Homo sapiens: one gene and its partners. The protein of the gene in region 1 purifies or fractionates together with the protein of each later gene. This does not show direct contact. Each region holds a gene or a part of one and is shown on either strand. Other genes may lie near its edges.

Region 1 (5,152 bases):
CAAATCCGGGGGAAAAAAATTAACCTTACACAAACTGAATACTCTGCCAAAGTACTAGCAAACATTGGCTAGTTTCATGCTTGTCCAAGAGTTTGTGTTTGATGTTTAACTTAAGGAAAAAAAGAGTACAGAGTAATTTAAAAATTATTTAAGTAACAATTGGTTGGGTGAGGTGGCTCCTGCCAGTAATCTCAGCACTCTGGGAGGCTGAGGTGGGCGGATCACCTGAGGTCAGGAGTTTGAGACCAGCCTGGCCAACATGGTAAATCCTCGTCTCTATTTAAAAAAGAAAGAGAAAAAAAATTTAAGTAACATTAGGTTACTTAAATAGGTAAGATGTTCACCTATAACTTGGAAACTATCCTTTGTCAAATCAGATTTTCTTTAGGAAATACTGAAACAACCTACCTTGCTTAAAGCTGAGCCTTGTTTCATGCATTTCTAACTAGAGCCCAATAGTCACCAAAAGATGATAGAGGCAGGGCGTGGTGGCTCACACCTATAATCCCAGCACTCTGGGAAGCCAAAGTGGGAGGATCATTTGAACCCAGGAGTTTGAAACCAGCCGGGGCAACATAGTGAGATCCCATCTTAATAAAAATAAAAAAAAGATGGGAAGACAGGTTGTCCAGGAAATCAGAGTGGGTATTTTATTTATGTATTTGACGGAGTTTCACTCTTATTACCTAGGAAATCAGAGTGGGTTATTTATATATGAGGCAGAGTTTCACTCTTATCGCCCAGGCTCGAGTGCAATGGCATGACCTCGGCTCACTGCAACCTCTGCCTCCCAGGTTCAAGAGATTCTCCTGCCTCAGCCTCCTGACTAGCTGGGATTACAGGCGCCCGCCACCATGCCTGGCTAATTTTCTGTATCTTTAGTGGACACGGGGTCTCACCAGGTTGGCCAGGCTGGTCTTGAAGTCCTGACCTCAGGTAATCCACCCACCTCGGCCTCCCAAAGTGCTGGGATTACAGGTGTGAGCCACTGAGCCAGCCCAAGTGGCTTTTTTTTTTTTTTTTTTTTTGAGATGGAGTCTAGCTTTGTCACCCAGGCTGGAGTGCAGTGGTGCGGTCTCAGCTCACTGTAACCTCCACCTCCCAGGTTCAAGTGATTCGCCTGCCTCAGCCTCCCGAGTAGCTGGGACTACAGGTGCGTGTCACCATGCCCGGCTAATTTTTGTATTTTTAGTAGAGACAGGGTTTCACCATGTTGGCCAGGATGGTCTCGATCTCTTGACCTCGTGATCCGCCCACCTCGGCCTCCCAAAGTACTGGGATTACAGGTGTGAGCCACCGCACCCGGCCCAGAGTGGGTATTTTAAAAAGATGGCCATCCTCATAATCTGATTAAACATTTGCTAATAAGGTATTATGGATAGTTTTATCAGAGTGATTAATGTACTTACTAGAAATTAAGAGTAAATGCTAAAAACATTTTACATTTTCAGAAATGTAAATACTTTCATATTCAAAACTGCTGGCAGTGTGGTGGCTCACACCTGTAATCCCAGCCTCCCTTTAGGAGGCTGAGGCGGGTAGATCACTTGAGGTCAGGAGTTCAAGACCAACCTGGCCAACATGGTGAAACTCCAACTCTACTAAAAAATACAAAAATTAGCTGGGCATGGTGGAGCATGCCTGTAATTCCAGCTACTTGGGAGGCTGAGGTGCACCAGAATCGCTTGAACCTGGGAGGCAGAGGTTGCAGTGGGCCGTGATTGTGCCACTGTACTCCAGCCTGGGCAACAGAGCAAGACTCTCAAAAAACAAAAACAACAAAAATCCCCCCTACAAAACTGTCAAAAAAGGCCAGGCACAGTGGCACAGTGGCTTGCGCCTATAATCCTAACACTTTGGGAAGCCAAGGCAGGAGGACTGCTGGAGTTCAGGAGTTCTGGACCAGCCTAGGCAACAAAGCAAGACCTTGTTTCTACCAAAAATTTAAAACATTAGGCAGGCGTGGTGGCATGTGCCTACAGTTCCAGCTACTCAGGAGCCCAGGAGAACCAGGCTGCAGTGAGCTATGATTGCACCACTGCACTCCAGCCTGGATGACAGTGAGACCTTGTCTCAAAAAGAAAAACAAATTGCTGAAAAACATTCTTTTTTGCTTTCATTATTTTAGGACTCTGAATTTAAGTACTGCTAATCTACCACATTACCCGGGAAGCTGCATTCAAGAACAACATTTACAGATTCTCGAATGAGACTACAACCTCCCACAAGAGATATTATTTACTGTCATTTATGCTAGTGGGTATTTTACCCTTTATTGCTATTATATATGGTGTGACATCAAATTTCCCCCAGGAAAGAAGATTTTGATTTCCCTCATTTAAAGGTTCCTCTTAGCTGTTCTGTCAGGGACGTACATGCTTGTTAAGGTTTCTCATCTTCTACAGGCTCGCTGTGGTATTCTGCCACATACAGGCTCTTATCAATGTTGCTCGGAATAGGTTTAATTTCTGTTCCCAGCTGCTCCTCAATACTTTTCAGGTTGAAGCGATCATCATATGTGATCAAGTTGATGGCTAAGCCAAGATGACCAAAGCGACCTAAAAAACATGCGTTTAAAAATTTTAATGAATAAAATATGAAAATCAATGTGAATTGTGCAAGTCAAGCAGTGGCAAAACCACACAGGATTGATAATGATGTTCAGTGCCATTCTTAGTATGCAAAACAACTTCTTAATGGTCTTCAAACACAGGTTTCCCTACAACTTCAGGTTTCGCAGCCCAAAATAGTACTTCATTTCACCTTTCTCAAATGACAAAATGGCAGTCAAAACTGCCATAAAATACACATTAAACAACAGTCACAGAACATACCACCTAATGAGTGAAGTTCTCATGTGTTAATTTCATCTCAAATTAAGCAGTTATTTTAACTTTTCTTAATAAATGCTACAGAAGAATTAGAAATTAGTCTTAAATACCAAACAACTGAATTACTGTTAATTCACTGTTCTCATAGCTACTGTACTCTATTTCACAAAAGAACAAAATTTAGTCATTACACGCCTCAAAAAAGAACTTCTACCAAGAATATCACCTCTTTTTTCCTCACCTGATCTTCCAATACGATGGAGATAGGTCTCTGCCAGCTTTGGGAAATCAAAGTTTATTACCACATTCACAGCTTGTATATCAATACCTCGGGTAAACAGATCTTAAAAAAAAAAAGATAATTTTCATTTTTTCAATTTAGAAATGTCTCTCAGTACAATACTAACACATATTTCTAGCATAACCTAAGTTTATTAATTTAATTCAGTTATTCAAATGCATTTGCACATTACTGGCATTACCTTTCATAATCACATTATCATAAATAACTTTCTGCTCCCAAGTTACTTTTTTCCAGTAATTGTAAGCAAGTTTTAAAAAATGTGTCTAAAAGAGGCTGGGTGCACTCAAGCCTGTAATCCCAGCACTTTGGGAGACCAAAGCAGGAAGATCACCTGAGGTCAGGAGTTCGAGACCAGCCTGGCCAACATGGTGAAATCCCTGTCTCTACCAAAAATACAAAAATTAGCCGGGCTAAGCGGTAGCAGGCGCCCACAATCCCAGCTACTTGGGAGGCTGAGGCAGGAGAATCACTTGAACCCAGGAGGTGGAGGTTTCAGAGAGCCAAGATCGCACCACTGCACTCCAGCCTGGGTGACAAAGATTCCATCCCCCTCCCCCCCCCCCCCAAAAAAAAGACAGAGATGAGGTATGAGTGCCAGAGTAAGTCTTCTAAAGTTTCAGATATGGAACCCAGTATCAGGAGCTGACAAGAGTTCATTTTCAACTTCAGAAATCCTAGAAGTAGTGGTAGGGTGTGTCGGACTATGTCACAGGTTGCACTATGTAATATGAACAGAGAAAGCAAAAAACAACTTGGGAGAAAAACACTGGGTAAAGGAAATACAAAAATACTTACCAGTGCAAACAAGATTGCGGCATAAGCCATTTCGGAAATCATGAAATACACGATTTCGATGTTCCTAGGAGAAAGCAATGTATTCCATTTGATTAACACTCATATACAGCCCCAAATTTCCCATAATTATTTCTCCCAGACGATCAGTTCTACCCAAAATCTGTTTATAAGTGATCCATGATATTAAGCTGCTTTCAAAACCAAATGAGTTAAGTTCTTGATATCTTCGTCTACAGAAACTGTTTACTTACGAAATTTCATAATGTAGTTAACAAAAAAGTCATTTTTGTTACAGTTTTAAATTATTTTTTGCTAAATCAAATTCTGAAATTTAGATATTGTATCTTTTTCTAAAGGCAAACAGTAAAGAAAAAAAGAAAAATCAGCCAGCTGAGGGGCCATATTTAAAAATCCAGAGCAGTGCTGTCCAGTAAAACTTCTATAATAAAGGAAATATTTGTGTCTGTACTTCCAATTCCAATACACTATCCAGTAGCAACAGGTGCCTAACTGAGCACTTGAAATGTGGCTGTGATTGAGAAACTGACTTTTTATTTTAATTTTAACTGATTTAAATTGCCACATGTGGCTATTTACTGTATTAAACAGAGAATTAAACATGGAAAGGAAGGGAAGAATAAAATTTTACATTTGTATCATGCCTGACAGCTTCCAAAGTACTCATTTAAACATTTATCTTAATTTTCCTAACAACCTTGTAAGTTATGAATATGTACTATTATCCCTATTTTATTGCTAGAAAATTGAACCTGAGGGAGGTCAAAATGAAAGGTCCTTTGGCTACTAAGGAACAGTTTATTCTTAAACTCAGGACATTTAAAAGAACATTAAAACAAAATAAAGAAAGAGATTTCTTATTAAATTTGTGCAAGTTCTAGTTTTATACTCACCTGCCTCATTTTAGCATGAATATAGAAGCAAGAATAACCCAGTTGAGAAATCTTCTTGGCTAGCAATTCAACTCGCTGAGAGGAGTTACAGAAAATGATCGACTGGTTTATCTGAAGCTGAGCACAGAAAAAAATAAGTATGAGAAAAATAAAAAAAACCTTCATTTGGTTTGCCAAATCTTGAAAACACGAACCAGCAAAAAAGAAACATTAACATGGTCTAAAACTTAGAATCTCATGATATGAGAGAGATGGTAAATTGTAAAAATTGTAAATAATAGATGGAAGATAATAATATCTAAGATTTACCG
Region 2 (4,325 bases), on another chromosome or scaffold:
AGGAGGCCGACGCAGGTGGATTATCTGAGGTCAGGAGTTCAAGGCCAGCCTGGTCAACACGGCAAAACCCCATCTCTACTAAAAATAGAAAAATTAGCCGGGCATGGTGGCAGCAGGCGCCTGTAATCCCAGCTACTCAGGAGGCTGAGACAGGAGAATCGCTTGAACCGAGATCACACCGGGCAATGGACTGAGACCCTGTCTCAAAAAAAAGAATTCCCCCTACTGCAACCCTACTGTCCTCTCTCAAGCTTCCTCTTACATGCTACTGCTGGAGATAGAAATAAGACTTCTTAGCCTGAAGTGAACTATCATTCGAAAGCAAAACAGGCCAATTTCCAAGAAGTTGCTAGTTTATACCTTCCCTAGTTGAGCTATTATTAAGTATTTCCTGTATAAGCCCTTCTCTTCCATTTCCTGCTAGGTCAGAGTCAACAAATATCCGGTTTTTATCAACAGGTTTAATTAAGCAGATCACTTACTATGTCAGCAAGATGGGCCAATATGTGATGATACCTTTGACTAAAGTTAGAGTAGGCCGGGTGTGGTGGCTCAAGCCTGTAATCCCAGCACTTTGGGAGGCCGAGGCGGGCGGATCACAAGGTCAGGAGATCGAGACCATCCTGGCCAACATGGTGAAACCCCGTCTCTACTAAAAATACAAAAAAATTAGCCGGACATGGTGGCGGGCGCCTGTAGTCCCAGCTACTCGGGAGGCTGAGGCAGGAGAATGGCATGAACCCGGGAGGTGGAGCTTGCAGTGAGCCGAGATGGCGCCACTGCACTCCAGCCTGGGCGACAGAGCAAGACTTCGTCTCAAAAAATAAATAAATAAAATAAAATAAATAGAGTAGGCTAGTGCTTCTCCAGACTGCAAGCAACTGAAACTTCAACAGTTTTCTTCCAGACATCCCAGAGTACATTAGTTCCCTTCCATATGCTTAAATGATCCTCCATCTTAAGAAAAACTCAAGTCCGTGATCTTAAAAATGAGACTAACTTTTCACGTCATTCATGCAACATGTTAATAGCTGCCCGAAATAGCTGTTTTCAGCAGTAGCCCAAAAGGCTCTCTCTAATTCTAAGTCAATCTCCAAAAAGGAATCGCAAAGCATCCTAAAAGGTTGATTTCAAGGGAAAGCCAATATAGCTTACTCATAAACATCTCTGCAAACGGAAGAATGAATAAACGAAATCCAAAGATAACCCTCCAACCTAATTTTAGTTTTTAGTTTCTGACTCCTCTTCCCAGCAAACCTCTTTCAAGATTTGGCAAGCAGGCCACAGAGTAAGAAAAGTAAAGATTTCTGGTGTTCCCCAAGCTATTACTTCCTGCTGCTTTCCTCAAAAACTGGGTAATCAGCTAGTTTACAACAATGCTAGTAAACAAGGAAAACCCTAAAGGCAAAGATAATCCACAAACTAACCAAGAGCTATATCTACCTGAGGTCAAACATAAGAAGAGAACTGCTTCTTAACAGCTCCTGCTTAACAGTCCCATCCACACTACCCCACCCCCTCTAAATGGTGGCACTCATTGGTCACAAGAGCCAACTTTCTAACTTCAGAAAATCACCTCTCTTTCAGATCTTTACTACTCACTAAAGATCTAGTGACAGACTTATCATACCCTATAAACACCAAAAAATAACTCAGAGCCTATTTGGTTCTTTAATACACTAGGAATAATGCTGGGCACAGTGGCTCACGCCTGTAATTCCAGCACTTTGGGAGGCTGAGGCGGGCGGATCACCTGAGGTCGGGAGTTCGAGACCAGCCTGACCAACACGGAGAAACCCCGTCTCTACTAAAAATACAAAATTAGCTGGGTGTGGCTGTGCATGCCTGTAATCCCAGCTACTCAGGAGGCTGAGGCAGGAGAATCACTTGAACCCGGGAGGCGGAGGTTGCGGTGAGCCGAGGTTGCACCATTGCACTCCAGCCTGGGCAACAAGAGCGAAACTCCATCTCAAAAAAAAAAAAAAAAAACACCAAGGAATAAATTATTTAACAAGTCTTAAAATTTCATGAGCTTATAGAAGACACTCAAAGAGCTCCTATACTCTGGTAGAAGGTATATTACTAAGCCAAGGTTTCAAAAACCTATAAGCTTCAAAGAATGGGACATCCCATACAAGACAACACCCATATGAACTCAATAGCCTTCCAAATCTGTCCCTGGCCATCACTAAAAAATGTGTGGCATTTCCCTAGAATCTGACAAGATAGGAACTCCAGATCTGAGGTAACGACATTCACTAGCCTCAGCATCAGTTACCCTCTATTATTTTAGTTGCCTAAGTGTTTCCTTGCTTTGCTGAACTGTACAGAACACACCACATTCCCAAGAGAGGCAAAGTAATACACATTATTGCAAGATTCCTCTAGAGGGAAAAACTTCCACCACATTAATTCAAGAGACTTAATGAAAAGCACCTGCTACTAAAATTGGAGGCATCTTATTCATCCAACAAATATTTATTAAATACTCTGTGCAAGGCTCTGTATATTCAATAGTAAATAAAATAGGTATGGTCCCCATCCCTGCAGAATAAAGTTTAGTGAGACAGACACTAGACAAGTAAACAACTATGGCCAGGAGCGGTGGCTCACGCCTGTAATCCCAGCACTTTGGGAGGCCGAGGCGGGCGGATCACAAAGTCAGGAGATCGAGACCGTCCTGGCTAACACAGTGAAACCCCGTCTCTACTAAAAATACAAAAAAGTTAGCCGGGCGTGGTGTCGGGCGCCTGTAGTCCCAGCTACTAGGAAGGCTGAGGCAGGAGAATGGCATGAACCCGGGAGGCGGAGCTTGCAGTGAGCTGAGATGGCGCCACTGCACTCCAGCCTGGGCGACAAAGCGAGACTCCGTCTCAAAAAAAAAAAAAAAAAAAAAAGCTATGAATAGGGTAACCTAATCTATACCTGTTGTCCCTGTGTAAAATAAAAGCATTCCCCTTTACTCTCAAAAATGTCCCAGGTTGGACTACAAATGATATGGTCACCTTAACTGTGAAGGACAAGGTACTATGAGAGAGAATAATGCAGGCAAATTACTTCAGCCTGGGTGATCAGAGAAGACTTCTTGGAAGACGTGCCATTTAACTGAGTGCTGATGGGTGGTAAGGCTCCAGTCATTCTGGAAGGAAAAATGTTCCAAGTACAGGGGACAGCACAGGCTATGACAGGGCTTGAGGCATTATTATGATCAACTTCAATTTTGACTAAATAAACGGAATTGTCAAAAAAGTGACTTAGGGCCGGGCATGGTGGCTGACACCTGTAATCCCAGCACTTTGGGAGGCTGAGGCAGGCAGATCACTTGAGGTCAGAAGTTCAAGATCAGCCTGGCCAGCATGGTGAAACCCCATCTCTACTAATAATACAAAAATTGAGCCAGGAGCAGTGGCTCACACCTATAATCTTACCACTTTGGGAGGCCGAGGCAAGCAGACTGCCTGAGCTCAGGAGTTCAAGACCAGCCTGGGCAACAGAATGAAACCCCGTCTCTACTAAAATAAAACAAATTAGCCGGGTGTGACAGTGTGTGCCTGTCTCCAAAAAAAAAAAAAATTTGGCCAGGCGTCGTGGCACACACCTGTAGTCCCAACTACTCCAGAGGCTGAGGCACGAGAATCACTTAACCTGGGAGGCGGAGGTTACAGTGAGCCGAGATCGCGTCACTGCACTCCAGCCTGGGCGACACAGAGAGACTCTGTCTCAAAAAAAACGCCGGGCGCAGTGGCTCCAATAAAAAGAAAGACTTGGGCAGGCATGGTGACGCATGCATGTAATCCCAGCTACTCAGAAGGCCGAGGCAGGAGGGTCACTTGAGCCCAGGCGTTCAAGTTCAACCTGGGCAACAAAGCAAGACCCTGTCTCACACATACACACACAAAAGTGACTTGGGGGTTCCCAGAGATCAACTTTTATGTGCAAGATTAAAATATGCTAAGCATGTAACTGTTAGAACTCAAAATTCAAACATAAAGACAAAAAAGAACCTTTAAGACAGTGGCTTTCAAACTTTTCTAAGTCATGAAACCCTCCGAGAATCTGAAAAACACTTTAGATCTTCAAGCAGAAAATGCATATATTCACGTATGCACACATCCACATATACACAATTTGAAGACATTCATAGGTAACGCCACCACCCAAACCCCAGCAGCACTATTAGTTCATCATGAACTCCAAGATTTAAAAAGTCCTCTTTCATAAAGGCAGAAGCAAGCTCTCAACTTATTTGGGAGTTAAGCTACTTCTTAAGATCTACTGATAACATCCAGGAATAAAGAGAAAAACTAAACCTACATTTTTTAAAA
Region 3 (5,105 bases), on another chromosome or scaffold:
ACTGGCAGCATGAGGGAGACTGGAAAGGCTGGGTGTGCCCCCGTACATTATATATGCCACAGCATCCCAGTACCTACCTTGTTGCTTCCCCGGGCCTTGCTTGAAATGCTAGAGTCACTGCTAGCCACAATCTCCACCTCCTTGGCCAAAATCCCAATGCAGGTGGAGCTATCATCTCCTGAGAGACAGCTGTGGGGAAGAGTGCAAAAACTTTGCCTCTTGTTCACCCAAAGGCTCAGCGGGCAGGGTTGGGAGGAAGCGAGGACATAGCCAGACTGGGGAAGGTATCTAGTCCAATGTCAGCTTCGCCTGGTCCACTGGCCCCAGACCCACAGCTCTGCTTGCTCATCTCCTTCCTTGGGAATGAGCCTACTTTCATTCTAAACCAGGTATCCAGGCCAAACCCCTGAGCTTGTCCTTGCCTCTCATCCTAGTGCAAGCTCAAGCTCCACCCCAGGTCATCTAGAGAGGAAGCAGCAGAGGCTGCTGGCCCCGCTCACTCCCCATCTCATGCCTTCAGCTAGCAGACACCCCAAATACACCATCACCACTATTGTCGTCTCCTAGGTACTCACATGACCTGCTTCTCTTGCAGGTTAATGGGTGGCATGGTCCGAAGACCAGTCTTGTTTGCTGAGGTACTATCACCTGAGCAGAGCGGGTCTGGGACCAGAAGTCCATTGAGGTCCCCATTGTAGGCACTGGATGGCCGTGGGCTCTCTGCACTGGGGCCTGGGGACAAAGAGGGTCATTCTGATAAGGTTGCTCGACCTGCCCACAAGCCTCTCCCCTTTCAGAGTTTCCTTCAAGAACTATGAGGTGCTCTAGGAACACTCAACTGAGCAAAGCATGTCCATGAGGAGGAGGGCCCTGTGTTCATCTCTCGTTCCATAAACACTGATGTAGGCAGGACCAAGGATGAGCATGAGGCTCTTCTACCTGGGGGAGGGGTACAAGCCATCAAGGACCCTTTGAGGGCAGTGAATACTCAGGTCTGGGTCACTACAGAAGAACTCTGTGGACTGAGTGAGGGCATAGGAGGGGTCAGGAAAGACTTTATACAGCAGTTAGTGTGACCAGAACACACAAACACAGGAAGGATGGAGTGAAAACAAAGCTACAGAGGCATCAGGTATGATGCCGTGGCACTTAGACTCTCCCTGTGGGCCATGAGAACCATAAAGAGTTTCAAAAGGGAAGGTGATGTGGTCAGTTCTGGCCAGTGGGAAGATTACTCTAAGATAGCATGCAGAATGGTTGAGAATCTGGGTGAGAGAGATCAAGGCCTAGACCAATGTAGTGTCAGAGTTTGGAGAGAAGATGGGCTCCTAAGGCATGGAAGGGCACTGGTAAGATGTGGAAGGGGCTGCCCCACACAGAAATGGCTCAGAAGAAGCTATCTTGGGCAAGTAAACACAGAAGGCAGGGACATAAAGGAGCTGGACCAAAAGGAGAGAAACTATGGGGCAGCGTGTGGAGTAAGGAAAGACAGCATTTCAGTTCTTTGCAACTGGCTGGGTTTCAAACACTCTCATAGGCTCAGACACCATTTCCAAAATCCCCAGGTGGCAAGGAGCCTAGGGCTCCACATTCAGAACATAGCAAGTTTCCAGTCACAACAGTCTTTGAATTATTTTGGCGCGATCTCGGCTCATGGCAACCTCTACCCCCTGGGTTCAAGGGATTCTCCTGCATCAGCCTCCCAAGTAGCTGGGATTACAGCTCACCTAATTTTTATATTTTTAGTAGAGATAAGGTTTCACCATGTTAAGAAACCATGTTGGCCAGGCTGGTCTCGAACTCCTGGCCTCAAGCAATCCACCCACCTCGGCCTCCCAAAGTGCTGGGATTACAGGTGTGAGCCACCGCGCCCAGTCCTCAATAGTCTGAGTTCTGACCTGGTCGTCCAGTGAGAGGAGACAAGAAAGAGCTGCTTGGCAAACAAGGGAATCAAGTGCCAATCAATAAACAAAGTAGTTATAAGGAAAGCCTCCAGGCCACTTCATTCAGATCAGAGCCACTTTAGCTGCTCAGGGACAAGCTGACAACTCTCCCTTCCATGAAGGGTACCATGAGGACAACCAAAAAGCAGGCTCAGGCTGTACATGGTTGGCCATGCCAGGCTCTACCAAATCTCTGCGGAGTCTAGTCTACAAAGCAGCTGAGCAGCAGGAGAGGTCCACGCCCAACTCATGAGTAAAGAGGGCACACACTCCAGGCCTGGGACAAAGGGCCGAGTGGTCTCAGGCAGCAGATGGATTTTCTGAAAGTAGGGGTTAGTTGAATCCACCCCTAGTGAGCACCAGTGCCTGCTTCCAGAAGCAGCCAGTCTGGGCCTCCCAGCAGGTGTAAGAACAAGATCTGAGGAAACACAATTCTCCACTGTACGCCCACACCATCATCACCGGCCACTTCAGAGATCCCTAAACCTGTCAGTAAACTAGTGCCTGCACACGTGCTATTTCCTCTTCCTAATAGGTGGCTTCTCCATAGGTGCCTTGGGTGCCTTTCCTGACACCCAAGCCCCTGTTCACATTACAAGACCTAGCCCAGTCTCCCCTCTCAGACCTGCACTCTGCACTCACCAGCCTCCACCCTTCCCACGCCCATCACAGTATCGAGACACTCCTTTCTTTCAATGACAACAGTATATTACAACCCTGTTAGCTGTGTCTTGGGGAATCTTTGGGGGCAAGACTAGTTCTGAGGTATCATTAAGAGCCAAAGCGAAATATGAATGAATGGGAACCAATTAGGGCTTGCAGATATTTGTAGCATAATTCAGTCAGGGTGGTGCGGTCTGTGATTTGCCTTCATCCCAGAAAGAACACGGAATTGAGACTGGACACCTTCCTCCTGGAAATCAGTTTCAGAACGGGAGGCCTGGAGTCTTTATTCCAGAGAGAAGGGCAAGTTATGGAGGGGGACCGGCAGCTCTTCAGCATCGCGCTTAAGCCTGGGCCCAGAATTCCATATACGGAGCCCAGACCAGGCCTCTGAACCATGGAGAAAGGGAAGAGGAGCTAGGCCAGTCCCAGGAACACTAGAGACCTCGGGGCCAGGAAACCAGAGGGCCCCAGCGGATTCAGAGAAGGCGCCTCACCTTCAACCGAGACGCTGAAGGACAAGGCAGAACAGCCTGAGGACAAGATAGGGAGGGGTCACACCCAGGGGTCTGCGCCCTTCGAGGGGCACAGTCAATCCCCGTCCACCCTTACCCGCCGGGAGGATCCAGAGCTAGTCCTAAGGGAGCTGTGGGCCCCAATGGCGGTTCAGACGCGCGCCGCCCTTTTGTCAGCTCGCCTGGGGCCCACCCCCGCAACCCCCGCTCACCGCCCGCGGGCCGGTCCAGCTTGAGGATGTCCCGCAGGTGCTGCGTGGCGTCCTCGATGTCGATGCTCGCGCAGGAGGCCATGGGCCCTGCGGCGGGCGCCCCGCCCGCACCGCGTTCGTTCCGCCGCCGCCGCGCACCACGCACCCTCGCTCACCCGCCACGGGGCGAGACAGCGGGACGCCGGTCACTACACAGTCCACCCGCAGTTCGCAAACCGCCACCCGCGCAGCGTCGCTGAGCCCCGCCAACCCCACCAACCGCCTCCACTTCCGGCACCCACGAGCCGAGGCTCCCGGAACCTGCCAGGGCCGGAGAAGAAAGGTTCCGGGCTGGGGGCGGAAGCCTAAACCCCTCCCGCAGCCAGTCCCCCTCGGCGGCCCCGCCCCTGTGTCCGCGAGGTCAGGAAAGTCCCACGGGGCTGAAGTAAGCGTCCACGCACTGGGCCACCTAAAGCCCTACTCGACTCAGAAGGCGCCAGGTCCCTGCCCACTCCCAGAGCATGGACTCCGATGGTCCTGGGACGGGGTCAACTTAGCCGCCCATGCTAAGGTCCCTCAGACCCCCAGAATATGCTGAATTGGCAGGTGCCTCAGGTTCCCTTTGGGAATGGGTCGGAATAACTCAAGGCCTGAGGCTACCCTCGAGGTCATAAAACTCAGGAATTGCAAGAGCAGGGGAGATGATCCCACTACAATGACCAGTCATTGTTCCCTACTGTCCCCCAGCATCCCCTTGTCCCACCTGGCACCCTCAGGTTGGAAGAAAGAAACCACAGTTTACAAATTCTTCTTTATTGCAGACAGTTCAGGCACAGGTACATGGAAGAAGCCGTATTGCAGATTTTACACAAGGTGGTTTGAGGCAGCAGGCACCTACCTCTTCCCCACCCCCACTTCCCCAAATACACATCAGCCTAGAGATCATTCCCACTGAAATCTCCTGAGCATGCTGTCCTCTCAAACAGCACACCATCCAGCCCTGTGCCCAATGTCACCAGGCAATCTGTGGGATCTGAGGAGGTCCTTAGCCTCCACCCGTAGTGGGACAGGGGAAGGGTATCCTTTTACATGTCAGATTTAGCTGTGGTGTCCTTACCAATCCTAAAACCCTTAACAGGGCACTGACCCAAATCTTGGGTTTGGTTCTAGCCTATGGTTGCTACATTGCCACTAGGTTTATACCATCCAGAAGTCTGTGGGACAAGGGGCTAGATTTGTACTGGGCAAGGCCTTTGTCCCCAAAATGGAGAAGCAGAAACTGCCCTAATAGCTAAGACTCCCCGGAATTGGAAGATAGCATGAAGTCTGTATGCTGAGGAAGGAAGTGGAGAGAGGCCTGGCAATGTCCTGCAGCAGTCTGAGGGGTGAGGACTCCTAAAGCATGAGTCCCTCACAGACTGCCTCCTTCCACAGCTCCTGACCTATACTCCAACACAACTGGGCCTGGCTCTGTGGGCAGTGGAGGCTGGCTCTTCGGGTTACCTGCCTTTGGGTAAAGATATCCAAAGCAGATGGGACAGGAGCTGAGCTGCCCTCTGCCTGGCTTGGTGTATGTGGGGCATCCTGGATATGATCCTGATCCTTCTGGGGATAGAGCAGGCCCCTCCCTTGATACTGCTGACAACTCAGCCCGGAGGGCCTGAACGTGATGAGCCATTTTGCCAAGGCCTCTCCAGCTTCAACAGGATTCAGGATCATCTCTCCTGCTACTAGGGCCCTGAACCTACCCAGAGCAGAAGTCACAGGAGGTATCAGAACTGACTGCACAGGCT
Region 4 (4,325 bases), on another chromosome or scaffold:
TTAAAGTTTAAATTCTAAACATTTAAAATTTTTGTTTTATTAAAGGGGTGGCATAGGAAATACAACTTCATTTCCTACAACTAACTTTGAAAATATATTTAAGGCAAACTACTTGAGATAAATATGAAGGTATTTTTCTGGGCAAGAGACTAGGATTTAATCAGGCATGTCTTAAGAGTCCTCTTTGATGCAAATACAGATAAGATACATGACTCTGCAGCAAGGTGCTGGAGAATTGCATAAGGTTTACATGAGGCTGGGCGCAGTGGCTCATGCCTGTAATCCCCACCGTTTGGGAGGCCAATGCGGGTGGATCACTTGGGTCAGGAGTTTGAGACCAGCCTGGTCTACATGGTGAAACCCCGTCTCTACTAAATATACAAAAATTAGCCAGGCGTGGTGGCGGGCACCTACAATCCCAGCTATTCGGGAGGCTGAGGCAGGAGAATCACTTGAGCTGGGGAGGTGGAGGTTGCAGTGAGCTAAGATAACGCCACTGCCACTACCACTGCACTCCAGCCTGGGCGACAGAGCGAGACTCTGTCTCAAAAAAATAAACGTTTACATGAGCCACATATGGACTCATGTCCCACTGCATGACTTCAAAGCCCAACCCTACTATGTACATAAATGTCTGTGAGTTACTCTAGACCTCAATTTTTTGATCTCTAAAACAGAAACAATAGTACCCACCCTGACAGGGTGGTTGTGAGGATTCACTGAAAATGAACAAAAAGTGCTTCACACAATGCTTGGCGCATATCAAAGGCATAAGCACTAGCTATTTTAACTTTTAACTGTTTAAACTCTCTGAAATGAAATAATCCAAAGGTTCCAAATCCAAATCTGATAGGAAATGAAGATTCCAAAAGAAGGGCCAAAAGTTATTTATTGGGTCTTCATATGGGTAGAAAAGCACAAAACAATACTGCACAAACTAATTTCCTTTGTTAAGATGGAACTCTGGGTGACCATCTTACATAAGGGTAACCACGCATTGCCTGAATACCCAAATGAAAAAAAAAAAAAAGTATCACGGGCGTATTCTACTTTTATGTAGCTGATTATGTGTCCCAACACCAAAAAACTAAAAATTACTACTTTTAAAACCTCAAAATTTCACTGCTTAGAACATATAAAAGATACATTTATATACTAACATTTCAAACATAAATTTTCTAGTGGAATGAAGTTTAATGCAAAATGTAGGGAAAAAATTGGACACCCTTTATATGCTGATAAACTTAATTAGAATTTAGTTCATTCTAAACTAAATCTAACAAACTTCTTAGGTAGGCAGTGTCTTATTTTCACATTTTTGAAAGCTCTGAAATGGGTAAGATGACAAACAGACAAAAAGCAGAATACTAGAATGATCAGTTAAGGTGAACACTACAGTCATAAGTTGGTACAGGCTTCAATTAAGTGGTGTGAACCACTTACACACTGAGAGCTTAGGCAGCGTATGTTAAAAAGTTTCCTGGTTTTTTTTTTTTTTGCTTTAAAAAAAAAAAAAAAAACAAAAACGATTCTTTATTACGCCACACTACTTTGTGCCTCTCCGAATTTCTTACCTAAAATATTTTTGCTAAATAGAATTTGAAGCTTTTGAAAAAGGAACATTCTTTTTGTTATTTTAAGAAGCCTTTTAAATGACAATATTATATACTGGTAAAAACCAACTTAATCTGTATTTCACACACCCAAACCCCAAATACCACCTATGTAGATGATGAATGGAGATTTGACATTTAAAGTGGGTGCACTGACATATAATACAAGTTTTTTGTATATTTAATCCATAATTTCTGATTGACTCATTTTTAAAAGTATTTTAAAAATAAGCAATTGGCAATGTAACAAGGATACAATCCAATGTGTTCACAGATTGGTTACCTGTGAGACTGGTGCTTTAACATGGGGTGGAATTCCAGAGGAAGAAACAGTACCACTAGGAGGCAGGTTTTTACTGGTCACTGAAGCCCAGGAGAAAGCCTGCAGGAAATGCAACAAACCTAGACTACTAATCATGGAAAACCACCAACATTCCTATAGGGAAACTTCCAAATATATATTTTCTTTTCATTTCTAAACTATTGCTCTATATTGGAAGACTCCTAAAAGAAAGGCACACACACACATGCCAGTCTATGTGCCAGCTTTCAAAATCTCATTATGCAAGCTTATTTATAACTTTTGTCTGACTACTAAGTAAAACCATAAGCAAGTTCCTACGTACTCTAAGTAGATGAGCAAGTGGCAAACAAAACCACTAACAAACATGCTAGAAAAACCTGAACCTAATAGAAACAATTTATTTCCCCTTTGGGGGTAAGATAGGGTGTGTGATGGTGTTAACGGGAGAGGGAAGGATAGGAAAGAAGAGAGTATTAGCTGGAAACTCTGACATTCACAAATTGAACAAAGAATCTCCTCCTATCACCACTCAAATATACTTTAACCTTTGACTTTGAAGAAAGATAAAAGAAGTTTCAGGTAGGCTTACATGATACACTAAGGATGTCACTCATCTTTCCAAGATAGTTTAATTGGTGTAGAAAGGAAACTGATCCCATTTAAACCACAAACAACAGGTATCTCTTCTTTTAATTATAGACCAACTTGTTTAAGTTGGGAAACTGCATGATTCCTGGTGCATCTGTGCTCAGAGAATTTAATACAGAATGAAAGAACAACTGACAGCTCTATACATGGATCCAAATAATTTCATATAAGTTACTAAACAATGCATACAGACAAGGATTCATCTTAAGTTATAAGTTTCACTCTTAGAGGGGTATTTTGCGGGGCAGGGAAACAATAACATTTTCTCAGGTAACAAACAAACCCCACAGCTTCTTTCATATACATAAAATAATTTACTAAACAATTTAACATAATAGAAAAAGGTCATACTTCATTAACAGCACCAAATTTGAACATGTGATGTTGTAAGTCTAAAGAGTTCTTTGATCTAACCTTTGGTGGTTCTTGTGGCAGAGAAACAGGTTCTGCCGGAGGAGGAGTAGTAGATTTCTCCTCTAGTTCTTCTAAGTTCTTCTCCTCCACTTGTGGTTTCAGCTCTTCAGTCTTTGTTTCAGATTCTGGCTCAGGTTCAGGTTCATGAGAGGATTCTTCCAAAGGCTCCTCTATGCCATTACTACAATAAAATATTTAGTTCACTTTTTAGTAGGAGTTCAAGTAAGAAAAAATTCAATTTCTCTCTAATCCAATGGGTGTAACTAGTTATATGCCAATAACTTGTTCTAGATCTACAAAGTATTCAAAGCAAAATTCCAAAAAGAGCTATAAGACAGAAGGAATAATACTCTCAAGTAGCAGTTCTTTAATCCCACCATTTCAAAACTGAATTACTAAGAATGTTTACTTTAGTGCTAACTATAAACCTTATCTTTTATAAAAATAAAATGCTTACTCTGTGTTGTCTTCAACACTCTACATTATCAGTAAGGAACCACTGTTTTGGTGCAAGCCATGTTCAATTTTTGTATTAAATAAAACCATTCTTTCCAAATTTCTTGCATATACACAATAGGTACTCAAATACTGACATAATAGGTGGTTTTATCAAGAATTTACTTTCAACAATAATTCTAGGAACAGAAACCACCTTGCTGACATAGTTCAGACCAAATTTAACCTTGCAAATAGTATGCTTACGTCACAGGGTGAGCTTCATAGTAACCACTGTTAGCATTTTCTTGCACAGGTTCAGGAGATGGTTGTCTTTCTTCTTGTTCCTCTTCTACTTCATCTTCTGATTCTGAAAATACATAATACAGCACATCTTTTTTAAAGAGGCTTCACAATTTCTAACGGACATATTTTTAACATGTTTAAGGAAGTGGTATGATAGCAAAAAAGAAAATTTGACAATTTTCTTTCCTTTTTTTTTTTTTTTGAGATGGAGTCTTGTTCTGTTGCCCAGGCTGGAGTGCAGTGGTGTGATCTTGGCTCACTGCAACCTCCGCCTTCTGGGTTCAAACGATTCTCCTGCCTCAGCCTCTTGAGTAGCTGGGGTTATAGGTATGCACCATCATGCCCAGCTAATTTTTTTTTTTTAAGTAGAGATGGGGTTTTCACTGCATTGGCCAGGCTGGTCCCGAACTCCTGGCCTCAAGTGATCCACCCGCCCTGGCCTCCCAAAACACTGGGATTCCGGGCATGAGCCACCGCGCTCGGCTCCAATTTTTTTTTTTTTAATAACAAAGGCATTCAACTACAATATCCCCTGTTCTCTCAAAAACTGGAGAGCAAGGATGAAGTTTAATATTTATTGTACTCTATTAGAAAAAAACAAATCT

The links.
Region 2: the proteins of DDX6 (region 1) and LSM12 purify together in Homo sapiens (affinity purification with mass spectrometry; 5 studies listed by BioGRID and IntAct, with this or other methods). This does not show direct contact.
Region 3: the proteins of DDX6 (region 1) and EDC4 purify together in Homo sapiens (affinity purification with mass spectrometry; 6 studies listed by BioGRID and IntAct, with this or other methods). This does not show direct contact.
Region 4: the proteins of DDX6 (region 1) and G3BP2 purify together in Homo sapiens (affinity purification with mass spectrometry; 3 studies listed by BioGRID and IntAct, with this or other methods). This does not show direct contact.

Annotation. Positions count from the first base shown.
Region 1 is NC_000011.10:118,752,330-118,757,481, forward strand, and holds part of DDX6 (probable ATP-dependent RNA helicase DDX6), read right to left. Parts: intron 4,959-5,152; coding exon 4,842-4,958; intron 3,995-4,841; coding exon 3,931-3,994; intron 3,175-3,930; coding exon 3,073-3,174; intron 2,559-3,072; coding exon 2,383-2,558; 3' UTR 2,376-2,382; intron 1-2,375.
Region 2 is NC_000017.11:44,059,347-44,063,671, forward strand, and holds part of LSM12 (protein LSM12), read right to left. Parts: intron 1-4,325. UniProt on the Homo sapiens protein: Nicotinic acid adenine dinucleotide phosphate (NAADP) binding protein. Confers NAADP sensitivity to the two pore channel complex (TPCs) by acting as TPC accessory protein necessary for NAADP-evoked Ca(2+) release.
Region 3 is NC_000016.10:67,871,572-67,876,676, reverse strand, and holds the start of EDC4 (enhancer of mRNA-decapping protein 4), read right to left. Parts: upstream 3,626-5,105; 5' UTR 3,416-3,625; coding exon 3,334-3,415; intron 733-3,333; coding exon 576-732; intron 190-575; coding exon 78-189; intron 1-77. UniProt on the Homo sapiens protein: In the process of mRNA degradation, seems to play a role in mRNA decapping. Component of a complex containing DCP2 and DCP1A which functions in decapping of ARE-containing mRNAs. Promotes complex formation between DCP1A and DCP2.
Region 4 is NC_000004.12:75,652,087-75,656,411, forward strand, and holds part of G3BP2 (ras GTPase-activating protein-binding protein 2), read right to left. Parts: intron 3,785-4,325; coding exon 3,682-3,784; intron 3,161-3,681; coding exon 2,980-3,160; intron 1,996-2,979; coding exon 1,897-1,995; intron 1-1,896.